Regions from separate parts of the Homo sapiens genome. Here region 2 is linked to region 1. Evidence: fine-mapped expression QTL. A gene starts in region 1. The other region holds a variant in brackets. All regions are shown on one strand. Distances are from middle to middle. Region 1 holds the start of PPM1F-AS1 (PPM1F antisense RNA 1). Region 2 holds the start of TOP3B (DNA topoisomerase III beta).

What was found. PIP is the estimated chance that this variant, and not a neighbour inherited with it, causes the effect.
Region 2: its variant is fine-mapped to the expression of PPM1F-AS1 in whole blood (TOPMed, PIP above 0.99).

What each region holds. Positions count from the first base shown.
Region 1 is chr22:21,934,314-21,943,690 of GRCh38, forward strand. It overlaps PPM1F-AS1 (PPM1F antisense RNA 1), which reads left to right and starts at 3,924. Exons shown (of 2, transcript NR_147620.1): 1 at 3,924-5,300; 2 at 6,789-9,121. It overlaps PPM1F (protein phosphatase, Mg2+/Mn2+ dependent 1F), which reads right to left. Exons shown (of 8, transcript NM_014634.4): 3 at 5,219-5,367. RefSeq lists enhancers at 3,541-4,347, 4,348-5,155, 5,156-5,962 and a silencer at 3,899-4,058.
Region 2 is chr22:21,974,687-21,984,063 of GRCh38, forward strand. It overlaps TOP3B (DNA topoisomerase III beta), which reads right to left and starts at 8,101. Exons shown (of 18, transcript NM_001282112.2): 1 at 8,044-8,101; 2 at 954-1,121. The coding sequence starts at 1,023. RefSeq lists enhancers at 3,882-4,051, 7,502-8,488, 7,986-8,280. The variant T/C (reference allele first, on the strand shown) is at 4,579.

The sequences.
Region 1 (9,377 bases):
CTGCAAAGCCCCCATCACCTCCCGGGGCATTGTGAGCACATCAACTCAATAACGCGCACATGGCAGCCTGTTACCAGAATTAGAAATGTCTAGTTTGGCAACTTGCCCCTTGAAGTCTCCCATCCCACCATGGAGCAACTCTACTCATGGGAACCCACCCTGAAGAAATCATCAGAAACACAAAAATAATTTTAAAGACAAAGTACAGAATCACTTATAATTGCCCATTAATTAGAAATACTATATATCCAATGACAAAGGAATAATACTTAAATTATGATCTAGTCTCGGCCAGGCGCAGTGGCTCACGCCTGTAATCCCAGCACTTTGGGAGGCCGAGGTGGGCGGATCACCCGAGGTCAGGAGTTCGAGACCAGCCTAGCCAACATGGTGAAACCCCGTCTCTACTAAAAATACACAAATTAGCCAGGCATGGTGGCGGGCGCCTGTAATCCCAGCTACTCGGGAGGCTGAGGCAGGAGAATCGCTTGAACCTGGGAGGCGGAGGTTGCAGTGAGCCGAGATCATGCCATTATGCTCCAGTCTGGGCGACAGAGCAAGACTCTGTCTCAAAAAAAAAAAAAAAAAAAAAAGATCTAGTCTCTTGATGAAGAATTAAGCTGCTATTAAATATGATTTTCATAACGAAATATGCAACTCCCATACGACCCCACCGTGGCACTCCTGTGGACTTATCCCAGAACAATGAAGGCTGTTCACATAAAAGCTTGAACACATGAACACAAATGTTCATAGCAGCTTTATCTGGAACAGCCAAAATCTGGAGTCAGCCTAGATGTCCTTCAACGTGGAAATGGTTAAACAAACCGTGGTCGACCCATACCTTTGAATACCACTCAAGAATGGCAAAGAATGAACTCCTGATGCATCAAACAACCTGGGCTAATCTCCAGAGAATTAAACCAGTCCCCTAAAGTTACACATCATATGCTTCCATTTATATGTGTTCTTGAAATAATAAAATGGTAGAAGCCGAGAAGATTAGTAGTTGCCAGTGGTTAGGGATGGGGTCTGTAGGGGTGGGGGTATAAGGGTGGCCTTAAAAGGGTGACAGGAGGGATCCTGGTGATGGAACTGCTCTGTATTTTGACCATGTTAGGATCCTGGTGGTGATATTTTATTATAGTTTTGCAAAATGTTACCATTGGAGGAAACTGGGTAAAGTATACATGGAATCTCTTTGTATTATTTATTACAACTGCATGTGCAGCTATGATTATCTCAAAACAAAAAGTTTAATTAAAAAAAACTAGCCCAGGCATAGTGGCTCATGCCTGTAATCCCAGCACTTTGAGAGGCTGAGGTGGGAGGACTGCTTGAGGTCAGGAGTTCAAGACCAGCCTGGATAACATAAAGAGACCTTGTCTCTTAAAAACAAACAGGCTGGGCGCCATGGCTCATGCCTGTAGTCCCGCGCTTTGAGAGGTAAAGGCAGGCAGATCACTTGAGGTCCGGAGTTCGAGACCACCCTGACCAACAAAGTGAAACCCCGTCTCTACTAAAAATACAAAAATTAGCTGGGCGTGCTGGCATGCACATGTAGTCCCAGCTACTTGGGAGGCTGAGGCAGGAAAATTGCTTGAATCCGGGAGGCAGAGGTTGCAGTGAGCCAAGATTGAGCCACTACACTCCAGCCTGGACAACAGAGCGAAACTCAGTCGCAAATGAACAACACCAAACCAAAAAAAATTAGCTGTGTGTGGTGGTATATCTACTCCCAGCTATTCGGGAGGCTGGGGCAGGAGGATCCCTTGAGCCAAGGACGTCGAGGTTACGGCGATCTCCGATTACACCACTGCATTCCAGTCTGGGTGACAGAGGGAGACCTGGTCTCTTAAAACAGAAAACTAAAAAATGGATTTTAATAGAGTTTATAAGCATGTAAAATGCTTCTGTCATGATACTAAGTGAAAAAAGAAGGAAAATTACATATGCAGTTTAACTACAAGTCCATGAAAAACCACCAGGGCCAGAAAAAAAAAAAGGCGGGAACAGCACACAACCAAGGTGTCAGAGTGGGCCTGCACGTGGCAGTTCCACGGACAGCTTTTTCCTGAAGTACACTTTCTTAATACTTCCCCAGTTTTTCATTACAAGTGTTAGTCTCGTGTGACAGTGGCTTTAAAGCATGTCCACAAATTCTTTGACTTCCCCTTTTGCGAGGTGGAGCTCACTTCCCACTGCTGAGTGTGGGAGCTGGCTGCTTCTGATGAAGAGTGGCAGTGACTGCGTGTGCTTCAGGTGTTACGAAACAAAGAGGCCCTGCGCCTCCCGCCTTGTGTATTCTCACTCTCTTCCTCCCTCCCTCTCATCGCTCAATCTGAGCTGTGAGGATGCTCAAGCAGCGCCACGGAGAGTCCACATGGGACGGGACCAGGGCCTCCTGTCAGTGGCCGTGTGTTGAAACCACCGTGGAAGCAGGCCCTCCAGCCCAGCCAGCAACCATGTCACCACAACCCAGTAAGAGACCCTGGACCAGAACCAGCTAAGCTGCTCCCAGATTCCAGACCCACAGAAACTGGGAGAATAAATGTCTGTTGTTTTAAGCCACTACATTTGGGGCAATTTGTTATGTAGCAACAAATAATATAAGCCACAATACTCATTTGAAAAGAAAAAATACCCAAATCCTACCTAAGCTTGGCTTCTCAAGAAAAGATCAACCAGTAACAGGCCCAAAGGAAACCATGGGGGCTCTGGCTTCAGGGACTCATGTCACTTCAATGCACAAACTCTCCTGGAACTCCTGCCAGCCCAGGTGCATGTGGCAAGCATGGTGAATCAGGGCCAGTCAGCCGAGGGCAGGAGTTGAGTGTCACAGGCCACACCCAAAGGACATGGGGAACTGAGAGGAGGAAAGAGCTCCTGCCTAAAGGCGGAGGCTGTGGAAGAAAAGGAGAAGGGCTGAGGCCAGAGGGGGCCACCGAGGAAGAACCATGAACGCGAGGGCTTATGCACGCAGGAGGTCACAGAAAGACAGGTTCTTGGGAATCCATGCATCAAGGCAGGGGTGGGGGCATCCAGAGCCAGCTGCTGCCGCCATGGCCAACACAGGGGCCTATTCAAGCATTTGGCAAGAACTGGGGACTGGCAAGGCTATGGGTGAAGGAGGGGCCTGAGAACTCATTCAGGCAGGCCCAGCTCAGGGAAGGCAGCTCCACACAAGTTTGGCCAGTGGATCCCCTGCAAACCAGCAGGAAACCCCCCTCGTCCTGCCAGTCCTTGTAGCGCTGCCTCCTCTTCCTCTCGTCTGAGGGCCACTGTGCCCAGAAAACTGCCCCTAAATGCCATGGACTCCTCCTCACTCCCTCTGGAAACTGTGGGCTCCTGGTGCTTACCAGGCCTGAGCTCGGGCTGGGGGAGACTCCGGCCGCCGCTGTGGCTCACGGTCTCGCCCCGGGTGCTACTGCTATTTCCAACAGCCGCTTAGCCTAGACTCTGCTCAGGAAAGGCCAGCGGCTGAGGCAGTGCTGCCCAGCCCACGGACTCCCCATGCCAAGGGCTGCAGCCCCGCAACCTCGCTTCTGGATTCTTCGCTGATCCAGTCACCGGGGAGGGGCTGACTGGCAGCCACACAGAGGTTTCAGCCACTCGCTGCTCTTCAGTGGCAATTCTTATAATACAATCCCCACTCTGACGCAATTTTGTAAGAATGGCTTGGAGTCCAAAAACTTGACTACATTCTACTTCCGTGACAGGGAGAGCATGATCAAGGCCGCTAGGCAGGCCTGCATGCGAGGCACTCTGACAGACGGGGAAGCAAGGGCAGGCGAGACTTCCTTCTAGCTGCGCCCTCCCTCCTTCCCAGGCCTGCAGGAGCCCCGAGCGTAGGACTGGGCTGGTGCCGGCGCAGCAACGCTCCTTCTCACCGGCAGGTGGCGCTGTCTCCCGCGTGGACGGACAGAGACCCATCAGGCGGGGAGGGCCTGGGCGGTGGCGGCGCCCCCTTGGTGGGGCCGCAGAGCGGAGGAGCAGCAGCTGCCACCGGCCGGAAGCCTGCTGGCTCGGCCGAGAACAATGGCCGCCTGTCACTGTGGACAGCTGTCTCCCAGGCTAAGGCAAGGCTGCGCTCCCAGGGAATGCGGGCAGGGAGCCAGGGCGGAGGGCAGAGGACGAGAGCGAGGAGGAGAGCGCGGGCACCCACTGATGCTGGCGGCCTCGGGTATTCGCTTTCTCTCTCTTCTCCCACCTTGTTCCTTTTCCCCGGATGCACGCATGCACTAGTAATGCCGAATTTAGAACAACAGGGAAAGGAAAGGAAATGGCAAAGGAAGGGAAAGGAAATGGCCGACAGGAAATGGCAAGGAAGGGAAAATCCACTGCAACTCTGCTGCCTGCTGGCCTGTCCAGGGACAACTATTCAGCTGGGTGGGACGTTGCTACCCCCTTGTGGCACCCCTGCTGCAGCCTGCGATTCTTACGCCCTGTATTTCTGGTCTAACATCAACCAACACTTTGGCGAAATATAATAAAATGAAATTACTAGGAGAATGAAAGAAAGTCACATGAAATAAAAGCCCTGCTTTTTAATGATTATATCCTCTGTGAAATGGATCTGCAGCCCTCTCCATTTCTGGGTTCCCCTGGCCACACCATGCTTATGGCTGTCCCAGGAGCAGGCTGACAGACAAGCTTCCACCAGCATCTAACCATGGGGCTCATGGACACCGTAGAGCGTCTCCACCCAACAGAATCCTGACTTGGGGGCAGCTGAGGCAGGGGGCCCGAGCGTTGAGGGGACCACGCTGCTGCCCCGAGACCTGCTGGCATGCCACCTGGCCAACCCTGACTTCGCCTGCCCGGGCGCATGTTAACTGAGTTACAACACTGAGGGCACTTGAACCTGGCTGCATGACCAGAGATCGATCACCTGTGAGATCCTCTGTGAAACGGGATAAGCATCTTTAATTTCCTGGGCTGTTCTGGAACTTCAGTCAGACAGGACACAGGAGGGTGTCTGCACCACCCACCCCTGCCTCGTGGGCTGACTGGGAACTATATGACCTGTGGAGGGCTGTGACCGCCACCCTCCACCTCACTGGGGCCGCAAGCCTTCTCTGCTCCTTGATTCTGCTGCCGTTGTGAGCGAGGGCCCCAGCACCCTTAGGGACCCCAATCAATGGGCTTCCCACAATGTCGTCACCCTTTGTTGCCTGCTAAGCAGCCCTGGGGCCACCTCAGAAGAAACAGAACTCACAGGTCACAGGGGCCTTTTCCTCCTCGTCATCGTCCTCCTCCTCTTCTTCTTCCTCCCTGGGCAACTTCCTGAATTCGGAAAGGTCTGTCTGTAGCAGCTGTGAAACTGCTTCGTGGGCCAGAGCAGCAGCAAGTGGTGGCGGGGCCTTCCTAGGGATGAGGAGGGGGAAGTGAGGGGCAGCCCCCAGCAGGAGACCACACCTAGCCCCCCTTCCCCAACTGTCAGCCCACATGCTGAGGGGTCACGGCCAGCAGGGCGGCCCCTGTCCTCAGGGAGCTGGGACAGGAAGGTCACAGGACAGCAAAGGCAGACGCACAACCATCTGGTGGGGAGCTGGACCATACTTGAGCCTGCGGCTAGTTGGGAGGGGGCTGTTGATGGGCAAGTAAACTGCCTGACATCCATGCTGATGATGGCTCCTGGCCACAGGAGGGCAGAGGAATCACCCATGCCAGCTGGGGACCCTGGGGGGTGGGGAGTGTTCTGGGTTGAATTGTGTCCCCCCTAAATTCATACACTGAGGCCCTAACCCCCAGTACCTCAGAATGGAGCTCATTTGGAAACAGGGTCATTACAGATGGAATTAGTTAAGATGACGTCATGCTGGAGCAGGCTGGGCCCCTACTCCAATGACTGATGTCTCTATGAAAAAGGGAATTTGGGCCGGGTGCGGTGGCTCACATCTGTAATCCCAGTACTTTGGGAGGCCAAGGCAGGTAGATCACGAGGTCAGGAGTTTGAGACCAGCCTGGCCAACATGGTAAAACCTCATCTCTACTAAAAATACAAAAATTAGCCGGGTGTGGTGGCGCATGCCTGTAGTTCCAGCTACTCAGGAGGCTGAGGCAGAAGAATTGCTTGAACCTGGGAGGTGGAGGTTGCAGTGAGCCAAGATTGTGCCACTGCACTCCAGCCTAGGCGACAGAGCAAGATGCTGTCTCCAAAAAAAAAAAACAGGTTGGGGGAGGAATTTGGACACAGACACACACACACAGAGAGAATGCCAGGGGAACATGAGGCAGAGACCTGGGGGATGAACCTACAAGCCAGGGAATGCCAAGGGTTGCCCACAAACCACCAGAAGGAGCCAGTTCTGTCAATATCCTGATCTCAGATGACAGCCTCCAGCACCATGAAGCACACTTCTGTTGTTTAAGCTGCTGGGTCTGTGGTCATTTGTACAGCAGCTCCAGGAAGCTGATCCTGGGGTGTGGGACCCATGGGCACACTCAGCAGAGGAAGTGGCTGTGCGTGGTCCACAAGGTCCCTGGGCGGATGGGGCCATAGGAGCTGCCGGGGTGAGGGGCTGTGGGAACAGGGCAGGCCAAGCTTTATGCTAACAGGGAAGCACTGCCATTGGTCTGTGTTTTATTTATTTATTTTTAGAGACAGGGTCTTGCTCTGTCTCCCAGGCTGGAGCACAGCTGTGCAATCATGGCTCGCTGCAGCCTCAAACCCCTGGGCTCAAGAGATCCTCTCACCTCAGACTCCAGAGTAGTTAGGGCTACAGGCAGTAGTTAGGGCTACAGACATCACCATGTCCAGCTAATCTGTAAATTTTTTTGTACAGGTGGGGTTTTGCTATGTTGTCCAGGCTGGTCTTGAACTCCTGCCCTCAAGTGATCCTCCCATCTCAGCCTCCCAAAGCCCTGGGATAATGGCGTGAGCCGCCACACCTGGCCGCCTTTGGTCTGTTTGAAGAGGGACATGGCATGATCAGATGGGGCTTTTAGGCCTCTCTGACCCTGGTGTGGAGGGTGGGCTGGCAAGAAGGGGACGACTGTCTAAAGGAGAGAGTCTAAGACCTGGGCTGGGCAGGGCCATGGTGACAAACAGGAGCAGACAGAGTCGGGCAGTATAAATGGAGGGGCAGGGACAGTGTTGAAGTTTCTATTCTGAGCAACTAGAAGGCTCGTGGTACAGTTAATTACCCTGATGGGGATGGAAGAGTCAGGCAGGGGATGGGCAATGGGCTCTGTTTCCACAGCGACTTGTGTTCCACGGAGGTCAAGAGGCCTGAGGGCCTGCAAGAACATGGTCTGGGCAGGAGATGGAGCTGCGGAATGAATGAGGATAGGGGGCTGAGTCCCACAGGGCCAGAGCATGGCTAGCAAAGTGGGGATGACTCCAGGAGTGGCCTTCTGGGTGCCACGAAGGAAATGTTTTAAGAAGTGAGATTGGGTCACTGCTTTCAATGTCATAGAACAGAGCTGAGCAGTTGAGGAGGCGTAGTGGGTAGAAAGGGAGGTCGCAGCAGGCTGAAAGCAAACCGACAGGAGGGTTAGCGTCTTTTAGCAGGTAGGCAGGGCAGAAGAGAGCCACGGGGCAGATCAGGGAAAGAAACACTGAAGCCATCTGTGGCTGAGAAGGAGGGCAGTGGGGAGGAGTGTCTAAAATTCTGAGCCATCCCTGGCTTTTCTGGGCAGAAGGGGTCGCTCCCTCAGTGGCCCTATGGCCTCTAACATGCATTTTGACCCCTGGAATCTGCCTTCTCACCCAGTGGGGGCCCTGGAAGCTGGACAACACACATTCACCCCTGTGTGCCTGTCCCTGAGAGTGGGGGTCAGGGGAGCATGCCTGGGGTGGCGAGGTGATTCTGCACTGGGCCGACACTCCCGGCTTTAACTGGAAGGCGAGGACCTTCCAACAGCACAGGCTGACAGGTCTTGTTCCATGGGGGCTGGGCACCCAAGGTATCTACTGATGGTCTGAGGAATCTACCGGGATGGATTCCTGATTTTTTTTTTTTTTTTTCTGAGACGGAGTTTCGCTCTAGTTGCCCAGGCTGGAGTGCAATGGCGTGATCTCAGCTCACCACAACCTCCACCTCTCGGGTTCAAGTGATTCTCCTGCCTCAGCCTCCTGAGTAGCTGGGATTACAGGCATGAGCCACCATGCTCAGCAGATTCGTGATTTTTAAAATGAAAGGGTGACTCATGGGAGAAGCCTCTGGAACTGCCTTTGAAAAACAACCAGCCAAGACATGAGAAATTAGTTCCTCTGCCATTTGGGGGTTTCCTGCCAACTGCTGGGTTTTCCTTTTGCACAGCAGGGAGGAAGGACGCCTGTTTCCCTTGGTCCCGGTGAGGCCAGGCCTCAGCTTCCTGCCCACCCGCCACTGCTGCTGGGGCAGGGAGGCAGTTTCCGGCTGTGGGGACCCAGACAATGCCTGGCCAAGGGCCACCATCGTCCTCTTCCTGGACACAGCTCCCGCCTCATCCCAGGGTCTGGCCTGGGACACGCCCTAGAGGCCCTCAGCCCTGAGTCACTGCACCATGCAGATCCACCCTGATTCTGGTCCCTGCAGAGCAGGCTCCTACACAAGGCAAGAAGATGCTCCAGGGACAAGCCAAGGTGTATGCAAGGCCCAGGTGCCTGAGAAACACGTCTCACCGACCTTGGGGCAGGGGCTGTTACAAGAGGCTTATAGTCTAGTGGCAGAGACAAAAACCACACTCAAATCATTAGTGTACGGTATGCACTGCTCAGGGACTCAAATATGTGACAGGAGGCTCCAAACAAGAGCGGAGACAAGGCGTAAATAGCCCCCTGTGGACTGGATGTTCTGACTCCTGGATGGCCTCCAGAAGGATGCCTTTTACGGTCTGTGAAAGAGCTCAGGGACCAAGATGCTCAAAGCCCTTCATGCCCAAGAGCCCCTCCTCAGGCTGGGACACGGGAAGCAGAGCTCGGAGGTGGAACTCGTGACTGTGTATGGGCACATGTGAGTGCGTGTGTGTGGACAGCCAGGCTTAGTGTAGACAACGTGTGAGGCTCAGACCCCAAGTGCTGACTACACCTATGCACATCCACACCTGCGTGTGAAAGAAGATGCTAGAAAAGAACAAAAATAACTTAAAAAATAAATCCAATAAGATGGCTGGAACATATAACAACTTCAAATACTCCATTTTAGTTCACCATGTAAGGTGGGTTCCTGGGGGCTGAGGAGACTCGGGAGCTCTGCACCCCTCCTGCTCGCACCCATCACTAGGTGGCTCACACAGCAGCCGCTCAACAAGTCTGGCTGCTCTCGCATCAAAACCAAAACCCACTGCCCTCCCCTGCGCCCCCAGCACTGACCCCAACACTTTGGTTCGGGGCCCTCCTGGGCAGGTCACCTGCACTGCCTACTCACTCCTCAGCCCTCCAGGCCCTC
Region 2 (9,377 bases), 40 kb after region 1:
CAACCTAGCACAGAGCACTCTCGATGCAGAGCCCCAGGCTGCCGGGAGCCAGGAGCAGGCAGGGGTGGGCTCTTTCTCTGTATTTATGTTTTCACTCTTCAATTCCATTTTTGCCTCACTTCATTGAAACGTTATTCATCGTTTACTAAAACAGACTCCAGATCTACTCTCGGTTACCAGGGACCTTCTAATTATCGAATTCTCACCCTCTCCACTGACCATACTCAGCTGTACTTTCTCAGCTTCTGGGCACCGGGCACCACTTTTGGGGCACCGTCCCCTGCGGACCATGCCTTCTCAGCTGAACGAGGGTCTCTTCCCCTCTCAACTGCTGGACCAAGGGGAGGCCAGGTAGGTGCCTGTCATTTCTGGGTACCCAGCATCTAAAACTCTTCCTATTTGGAGGGAATTCAAAGATAGGGGGAAACAGCACCCTACCAACCACCCCAGTGGCCAGAGTTGGGGGTGAGTGGCAGACATTCCCTCTCGAGCTCCCTGGTGTCTCAGTAGTGCCTGTGGCCATAGCTCAGTCCATTGGCTACTCTGGAGTGACGTGAGGTCCACAGGACAGTGGGAGTATCCAGGGGTGACAATGCCTGGGGCATAGCCTCATCAGACCTTGACTGGGGTGTAGTCCTGGCTGCGTCTCCTTCCTTCCAGGGCTGGTTTCTACTACCTGTACCTAATAGCCCCACCAGGCCCAGCATATGGATAATGACTGTCCTTCAATTTCATTGTAAATTGTGCCTTGTGCCTTATGGGAACCCCAGCTTTGGCACATTGCCAGGAGTGGAAGCAAATGCACCCCACTGTGACATACTGAGATGCTTCATTACCACCTGCCGACCCGAACCAAATCTACCCCAGCCAGGGTGGAATCACATTAGGAAAAAATGTCCTGTAACACATAAACGACCGTGCTTACAGACCAAAGCAGGGCTGGTCTCTCCTACCTCTAGAGAGGATTTTGGCAATTGACTGTGCCAAGGACGGCTTTTCAGCAACCATGAGCACAGTCTTCATTTTGTCTCGGTCCTTCACACTCCAGTTTCGGGGCACTGGCAATGAAAAAGTTTAGACTCCACTCTTCCGCAGCACAGCACTATTACCAATGCTGACTCCTAAAGAGAAGAAAAGACACTCAGGATAGCAATGCTGTCAATAGAACCTACACCACTACAAGGAAAATCACTTTAACAAAGAAAAAACAAGACCAACCTGAGGCAAGAAGAAGAAAAATTAGGGAATTAGGGAAACTTGAAGACATCTGAGATTAAAAACAAGAAAAAACTACCAGGTCAGCTGAAGTGGCTGAGATGATCCTGGGAATGTGGCTCCATTTGGGGGAAGGTGAAGTGGCCCCAGTGATCTCAGGTCAATTTTATTCCTAAATCCATGCTAGGAAGATGCTGGGGCCTGGGGATCTGGAGTGATGGGTCAGGCCAGGTGGATGCCTGGCCCTCCTCTCTGGACTGGCTCTTCCACCTACAGGTGGACTCACCTGGAAAGAGGAACTATCGTGGCCGAGAGCAGCACCTCCCGCTCAGCAAAGCACTTGGACGCCCCAGGACACTTTACAAAATGCAGATGCCCAGGCTGGGCCCCCCAGGTCCTTCTGATCCATGATGGGCCTGAGACCCTCTGGCTAGTCGGTCCAGCCCCAAGCAGACATCAGGACTCTGTCACATCTATCTCCCACCTATTCCACTCCACCTTTTGCTTTGCAGGTCATGCTCTGGCCAAATTAAATCAAATATCATCATCGAAGCAAACACGCACTTGAAGCCTCTGTGCCTGCGCTTCCCTGCCTGAGAGAAAGCTCCGCCAGGCCTGGAGGATGCAGCTGGATGGCCCACAGGCCCAGCTCAAGTCTCCCAACACCACTGGCAGGGTAAGTCAGCCCTCCTGTGCCCACAGCTCTTGGGCTAGGTCTCCATTCCAACCCACTCACATCATGCCATCATCAGCGACTACTTCACCCCCAAAATAGGACACGATGGGCTTTGTGTCTGAATCACTGTTGGTCTTTGCAACAGCTTTCTGTGCCTGACACATGACATTCAATACCTGCTAGCCAAGTAAAAGAAAACCACATGAACCCTTTTTGTTTTTTCAGTCATTATAAATGTAGCACTGATGTTTATAAACATAGCACCGTATTAAAAAAGAAAAAAAAGACTCGTATTGAGACAACTGGGAAATCTGCTGTGAAAAAAAATAAAGTTAGACTCCTGCTTCCTAAATCCCACTAAAACCGATTCCAGATCTAGCAAAGGTTTGAGTAGAAACAATGAAACCAGAAAATATTAGGAAAAACATGTGCTTTTAAAATAAATCTCACAAGCCAGGTGTGGTAGCACATGCCTATAGTGTCAGCCACTCAGGAGGCTGAGGCAAGAGGATCGCTTGCTTGAGGCCAGGAATTCAAGGCTGTTGTGTGCCATGACTGCACCTGTGGATAGAACAGCCACTTCACTCCAGCCTAGGTGACAGCAAGACCCTGTCTCAAAAAAAGTAAAAGCAAAATAAAATAATCTCAGCATAAAGAAAAACTACCACCTAGATGGGCACAGTGGCTCACGCCTGTATCCCAGCACTTTGGGAGGCTGAGGTGGGTGGACCACTTGAGGTCAGGAGTTCAAGACCAGCCTGGCCAACATGGCAAAACCCCATCTCTAATAAAAATACAAAAATTAGCTGGGTGTGGTGGTGGGTGCCTATAATCCCAGCTGCTTGGGAGGCTGAGGCATGAGAATCGCTCGAACTCAGGAAGTGGAGGTTGCAGTGAGCCGAGATCATGCTATTGCACTCCAGCTTGTACAACAGAGTGAGACTCCATCTCAAACAAAAAAAAAAAAAAAAAAAAAAGGGAAAACCACCACGTAAGTACCTTTGTGGTATCACATCATGTCCAACAACACTCGCAGAAGAAACTCAGAACTACAATGAGCTTGTGCTTATCACATAGGGAGAGACTCAAAGTCGTTGCACACACAGCAGATGAGGGCATGGGGAAGTTAAATGGGAACAACCTCTATGTGCAGCAATTCAGGGATCCCTCTCAAAGTCCGAGTGCACATCCCAGCAATTCCACTCCTTGGAATGAACTTAATAGTCCAGTTATTTATTGAGTACCTACTGCATGCTTGGCCTAGTCCAGGATGCAGGGAATACAGCACAAAGCAACACCAGGTCCTGCCCTCCCAGAACTCATGCTGTAGTATGGGAGCAGGGGAGGGACAGGGCAGGGCTGGGTGACACCTGGGAGAAGAGTCCAGGCAGAAGGAGCAGGGAAGGTGAGGTCCTTGGGGAGGATATGGCTGGGCAGGGGGGCTCATGGGGCTGAGGGAGGGAGCAGGGGTGTAGAATGTGGGTCTGCTCTAGGGGTGCTGGGAGGCAGCAGAGGGTTTGCATAGGTGTGGGATAATCTGACTTCAAGTGTTAAAGGGACCTCTCTGGCTGCCACATAGAAGAGGATGAATGGGCCCTGGGTAGCAGTGGTGGAGGATGCGAGGGAAGTCAGAATCCAGGCAGACCTGGGATGGCGGGACATGGGAGGGGGAGGGGAAGGTGAGTCAAGAATGACCTGAGGCAGAGCTGGGCATGGGCTCACACCTGCCATGGGCTCACACCTATAATCCTAGTGCTTTGGGAGGCGAAGGCAAGAGGACCACTTGAGGCCAGGAGTTTGAGAAGAGCCTGATTAACACAATGAGACCTCATCTTTACAAAAAAGCAAAAGGAACAACCCATGGCTTTGGCTTAGGCATGACAGGAAGGGACTGGCAGTCTGATGTGGGACTTCAGGTGTGTTAAACGGGACCTGCCCATTGGACAGCCTGGGTGGCCTGGAGGAGGTGGCAGCAATGTGGAAGGAGCCCAGGCTGGGGGTCGGGAGATGAGGAGCTAGCAGGGTGAGTCAGGAGGGGTAAGGTCCTGAAAGCCACAGGAAAGAGCACTTCAGGGCAGTTATCACCATGTGGGGGACACTGACAGGCCAGGCGAGATGGCAGCTGAGACCTGACTGTAGGGTCTGGCAAACAGAGCCCTGGGTAATCCTGATGGGGCCATGTGGTGAGTGACAGATGAAAGCTGCATGGGGTGAGCTCAACAAAACCTGGGAGATGGGAGAAGGCTGGTGCACTGTCCCCTCTTGTTTCAGGATGGTGGCTGTGCCAGCATGTTCTCCGCTGATGGGACTGCTCTGGCGAGAAGGAAAAGAGAAGCTGCGTGCCGGAGGGGAAGGAACTGCTGCAGTGATGGCCTTGGGAGGGTGAGGGGCAAGAGAGGCAGCCGGTCAGCATCCAGGCGATGCAGAGCTGCCACAAGGCTGCACTTCTCTTGGTGGAGGAGGAGGCATGGTACGGCTGTCCACTGAGGGAGGACAGGTGGTGATGCTGCGGGCAGGCCCACAGCAGAGGAAGCACTGGATTTAGTTAGATGGGAGAGTCCAGGTGAGTAGGAGGGAGAGGGAGTGGGTCAGGGTTCGAGGGGAGAGATTACAAGGACAGAACCTGACTCTGAGTTGGGTGAAGAGGGAGGTGAGGGTTGGGGAGGGTCCACAGAGGGTGTGCTCTG[T/C]GGGGTCCAGGAAGTGAGGCACAAGAGCAGGAAGTGGGAGTCAAAGAAGCAACTCCCAGAGGGTGGGAGGCTCAAACAGGAATTACAGAGGGGCCTGGGTGGTGGCATGCTGACCCAGGGAGGGCAAGGGCTGTGAGACAGGTAGAGAGTGAAGTCACCTGGGGAGACTCACAGGAGTCAGTGGTGGGCCCTGACAAGACTGTCCATGTGGACTCTGAGTCCCCAGGAGGTAGGACAGGGCAGCGCTGGAGTGGCCTCAGGCTGGGCACGGTGGTGCCTGTGATGAACCACATCACTGGGGAGTTCTCTGCAGCATTATCAATCATGATAAAAGGTTAGAAACAAGCTGGTGTCTGTCAACAGGGAGGTGGTTAAATAAAAGCATGGCATTCTCTGGCCGGGCGCGGTGGCTCACGCCTGTAATCCCAGCACTTTGGGAGGCCAAGGTGGGCAGATCACGAGGTCAGGAGATCAAGACCATCCTGACTAACGTGGTGAAACCCCGTCTCTACTAAAAATACTAAAAATTAGCTGGGCATGGTGGCAGGCGCCTGTAGTCCCAGCTACTCGGGAGGCTGAGGCAGGAGAATGGTGTGAACCCGGGAAGCGGAGCTTGCAGTGAGCCGAGATTGCGCCACTGCACTCCAGCCTGGGCGACAGAGTGAGACTCCATCTCCAAAAAAAAAAAAAAAAAAAAAAAGCATGGCATTCTCTACAGTAGAGCACCTGGCAGCATTACAAAGGAAAGCATCTGCTTGGTACATACTAACGTGGATCAGATCACTGAAATAAATCATGCTAAGAAAGCTGGGCATGTAACGGTGTGTAGAGAGCACTGCCATCTGTGATCACACATATGTGTGCACACGTGTGCACTTGATTATGAAGAGGCGATATGTCTGGATGGAACGCAAAACAAACAGTCCAAGCAATCACCTGGAGTGGGTGTTAGGGCCTGGAGGTCAGGGCTGGGGGTGCCTCCTCACCACATTCCCTTTTGCACCTTTTACATTTAGCGCCTGGACACAGGTGACTGAGGGACAAGAACTAAGACAAGGGACTTTACAATAAAACCAGAAAAATAAAGGAGGGTTGTAAAGGGCATTGTTCAGAAAGGATGCCAAAGGAACTCCCTCACTAAAGGGGCTTCTGCTGCTCATCATGCTGTGCAGGGGAAGAGGTCCAAGGTCGGCCTTGGGCTGTCAACCTTGTTCCCCACTTAAGAGATCACAGGACTACAGTGAAATCAGTAATCTTGACCAGAAAGCTGTCCCAAATAAAATGACAATTTGCTTTTTTCCTCAAAATAAGTAAGTGGATGTTCCCCTTAAATGTACAACCATCCCACAGTGAAAGAGCCGAGGCCTTGTGGAATGACGACACTGTCTGCAGATGAGCTCTCTGGCCCATGACAGCTCCAGCTGCATCTCCCAAGGCTCTGCTGCGCACCCACCTTTCCTCCCTGTGCGCCAGCAGGCTTCGGCCTAGGCCACTTTTCCCCCTTAGTCTACTTGCTCTGACCCCTGCCCCTCCCCTCCTGAAGACTGCATCTGGCGTCAGCAGTCTGTCTCTCCCACAATTGTCAGGTTCATTGCCATATTTCTGGCACCCAGCATGCACTAAATGCCTGCTGAGGGAATGAATGAACAACCAAGGTGATTATGACTGGCCTCTGCTCTCCGTTCTGGGGAAGTTTTGATTCTACCAAAATCAGAGGCCCAGAAGTGAGGTTTAAAAGAGATTTAGGGACTCCCCTTCTCTCACCCTGGGAAGCCAGAGGCCAAAAGGGAAAACTCGCAGCAGAGGGGCATTGTTCTGTGAGGGTCTGAGTTTCCCATCTCTTCCAAAGTAGGAAATTTTGTCCTAAAATGTTTCCTCAGATTTTCTCATGTCTATGCCACAGAGTAGTCAGCAATTATGTATGACATAATGAGGACACACCAGGGACCAGGCAGTCCTGCCAGCATCCTAGGCAGGGATGCTAATAGGTGCTGCCATTTTATTGGCCTAGACTGGGACTGTGGGGTCAGAGAGACCAGAGCTCCAGTGGCTGGACTTGGTTGTTCTAGAACCCGTGCCCCAAGCCTGATCCTGTCCTGCCTCTGTGAGCACTCTGATGGAACAGCAGCCCAGCTTTGCTTCCTTGTAGCACTCATCACTACACTTGGTACAGCTTCCATCTACTTATTCAGCTCTTGTCTTACAGCTCCTAGAAAGTAAGTAAGCAGCAGGAGAACACGGGTTTTGCTTTGTGCATTCTCACGGTAAATAGACAGTGAGCAAATACTTTGCGAGGCTGAGGCAGGTGGATCACCCGAGGTCAGCAGTTCAAGACCAGCCTGGCCAACATGGTGAAGCCTGGTCTCTACTAAAAATACAAAAATTAGCTGGGCGTGGTGGCGCATGCCTGTAATCCCAGCTACTCAGGAGGCTGAGGCAGGAGAATCACTTGAACCCGGGGGCGGAGGTTGCAGTGAGCTGAGATCGCGCCACTGCACTCCAGCCTGGGTGACAGAGTGAGACTCTGCCTGCAACAAAACAAACAAAAAAAGAAACAAGCAGATGTGGCCTGGGAGTAGGCCTAGCAGTGGTCTGAATAGCATTAAAATTCCTAGGATTTACCACCTCAGTAACTTTACCAAATGCTTCTAGAATCAGGAAAAGAGGGAAACAACCATTTCTTAAGCTCCTCCTTTGTAGTAGGCACACCATAGCTATCAACACTATTCAATCTCGCCAGCAACCCCATAAGGCAGGTGTTGTAATTTTTTAAAACTGTGAGTAAATGGAGGTTCAGAACAAGTCACACTAGTGTCAGGTGACCTTGGCAAAAGAATCCCAGGACTGGCTGGCCATCAAGCCCAAGTTAGGCTGGCCTCTCAGGTCCTGTTTCAAAAGGTGAGAAGATAAAAAGGCAAGACTAGGAACATCTTACCTTTCACTTCTGCGAGAAATTATTGCCCCTGGATTCCAGCTAATTTGTTCACAAAAGTACCCTACTTCATTTACAGATAACAGGTCAGAGAACCTGGGTGCCCTCAAAACCCAGCCAGGGCCTAGGGGGCGGCGAGTGGAAGCTGCCTGGGTGTGTACCGCACCGATCTGGGCCCCGGTGGCTGCACAGCTTCCCTGAGCCTCAGTTTCCCTACCTGTGAGACTGGTACAGCAGATCTCACCCTAAAGAGCTGTGGGAGGGTTCGAAGAAGAAAAGTATTAACCACAGCGCCTGCTCCCTGCAGGCACATGGCGGGCCCATCTCCACCTCCCTGAACCCCCACAGCAAGCCCCGCGGGAGAGTATCACCCCCGCCAGGGAAGAGGCAACAAGAATGCAGAGCCCGGCCCGGGCGCTCTCCCGAGCTCGCGGGTCCTCCGCCGGCCAACGTTCAGGAAACAAGCCAGAAAAATGCGTGCGCTTCCCGCCTTTCTGAGCCGCCGGGCGAGGGTCCCGCAGCCCGCCGCTCACCCACAGCCGCACCGCGGATCCAGCTCCGGTCCTTGTTCCCGGGGCGGCTACCGACAACCCCTATTTCCGGGTCCAGCCGCTTCTGGCGTCCCCGCGTCCGGTGTGCCAGCGTCTGCCCTCCGGCTCCGGCGGGTCGGCGTTCTTAGGTTCCGTGGCTCGCGGATTCCGGGAGCACCCCAGGGAGTGGCACTTGCACGCCGCGGACCGCAGGGATCCCCAAGCCCTGCACCCAGATTCTTCCCCGCCACGGAGAGACAATCATGACAATTATCATTACAATGATTATGAAAACTGGCATGAAAACATTTATGCTGTTAATAATTAAAATAATAAAAATGTACCGATGTGTGTATAGCAGGCTTCTTTTCGATGCTGTAAAAAAATCTGTGGAATGAATGAATGATCTGTGTAAAATATATTTGGAAGATGAATTCTAAAATTAAGTTATTTATTTATTTATTTATTTATTTATTTTGAGACAGAGTTTTACTCTTGTCGCCCAGGCTGGAGTGCAGTGGTGTGATCTCGGCTCACTGAAACCTCCGCCTCCCAGGTTCAAGCAATTCGCCTGCCTCAGCCTCCTAAATAGCTGGGATTACAGGCGTGCGCCACCACGCCCAGCTAATTTATATGTGTATGTATATATATGTGTGTGTATACATATATATATATATTTTTTTTTTTTTTTTTGAGGCGGAGTCTCACTCTGTTGCCCAGGCTGAAGTGCAGTGGCGCAATCTCGGCTCACTGCAACCTCCGCCTCCCGGGTTCAAGCGATGATCTCGCCTCAGCCTCCCAAGTAGCTGGGACTATAGGCGCTTGCCACCACGCGGGCTAATTTTTTGTATTTTTTTAGTAGAGACGGGGCTTCACCGTGTTAGCCAGGATGGTCTCGATCTCCTGACCTCGTGATCCGCCCGCCTTGGCCTCCCAAAGATTTCTATATTTTTAGTAGAGACGGGGGTTTCACCGTGTTAACCAGGCTAGTCTTGAACTCCTGACCTTAGGTGGTCCGCCTCCCTCGGCCTCCCAAAATGCTGGGATTACAGGTGTGACTCTTCACGCTCGGCCAACTAATTTATTTGTTAGAGCATTAGGATTATGGAAGGTTTAAAATACGTTTTATGATCTTATTTTAAATAACATACACACATTGCCCTTGTTCCTTGTAGATTTTCCCAACCTGCTGTTTTTTTTTTTTTTTTTTTAAAGACAGGGTTTCACTCTGTCACCCAGGCTGGAGCGCAGTAGCGAGATCACAGCTCACTGCAGCCTCGATCTCCTGGCGTCAGGCGATGCTCTCACCTCAGCCTCCCCAGTAGCTGGGACCACAG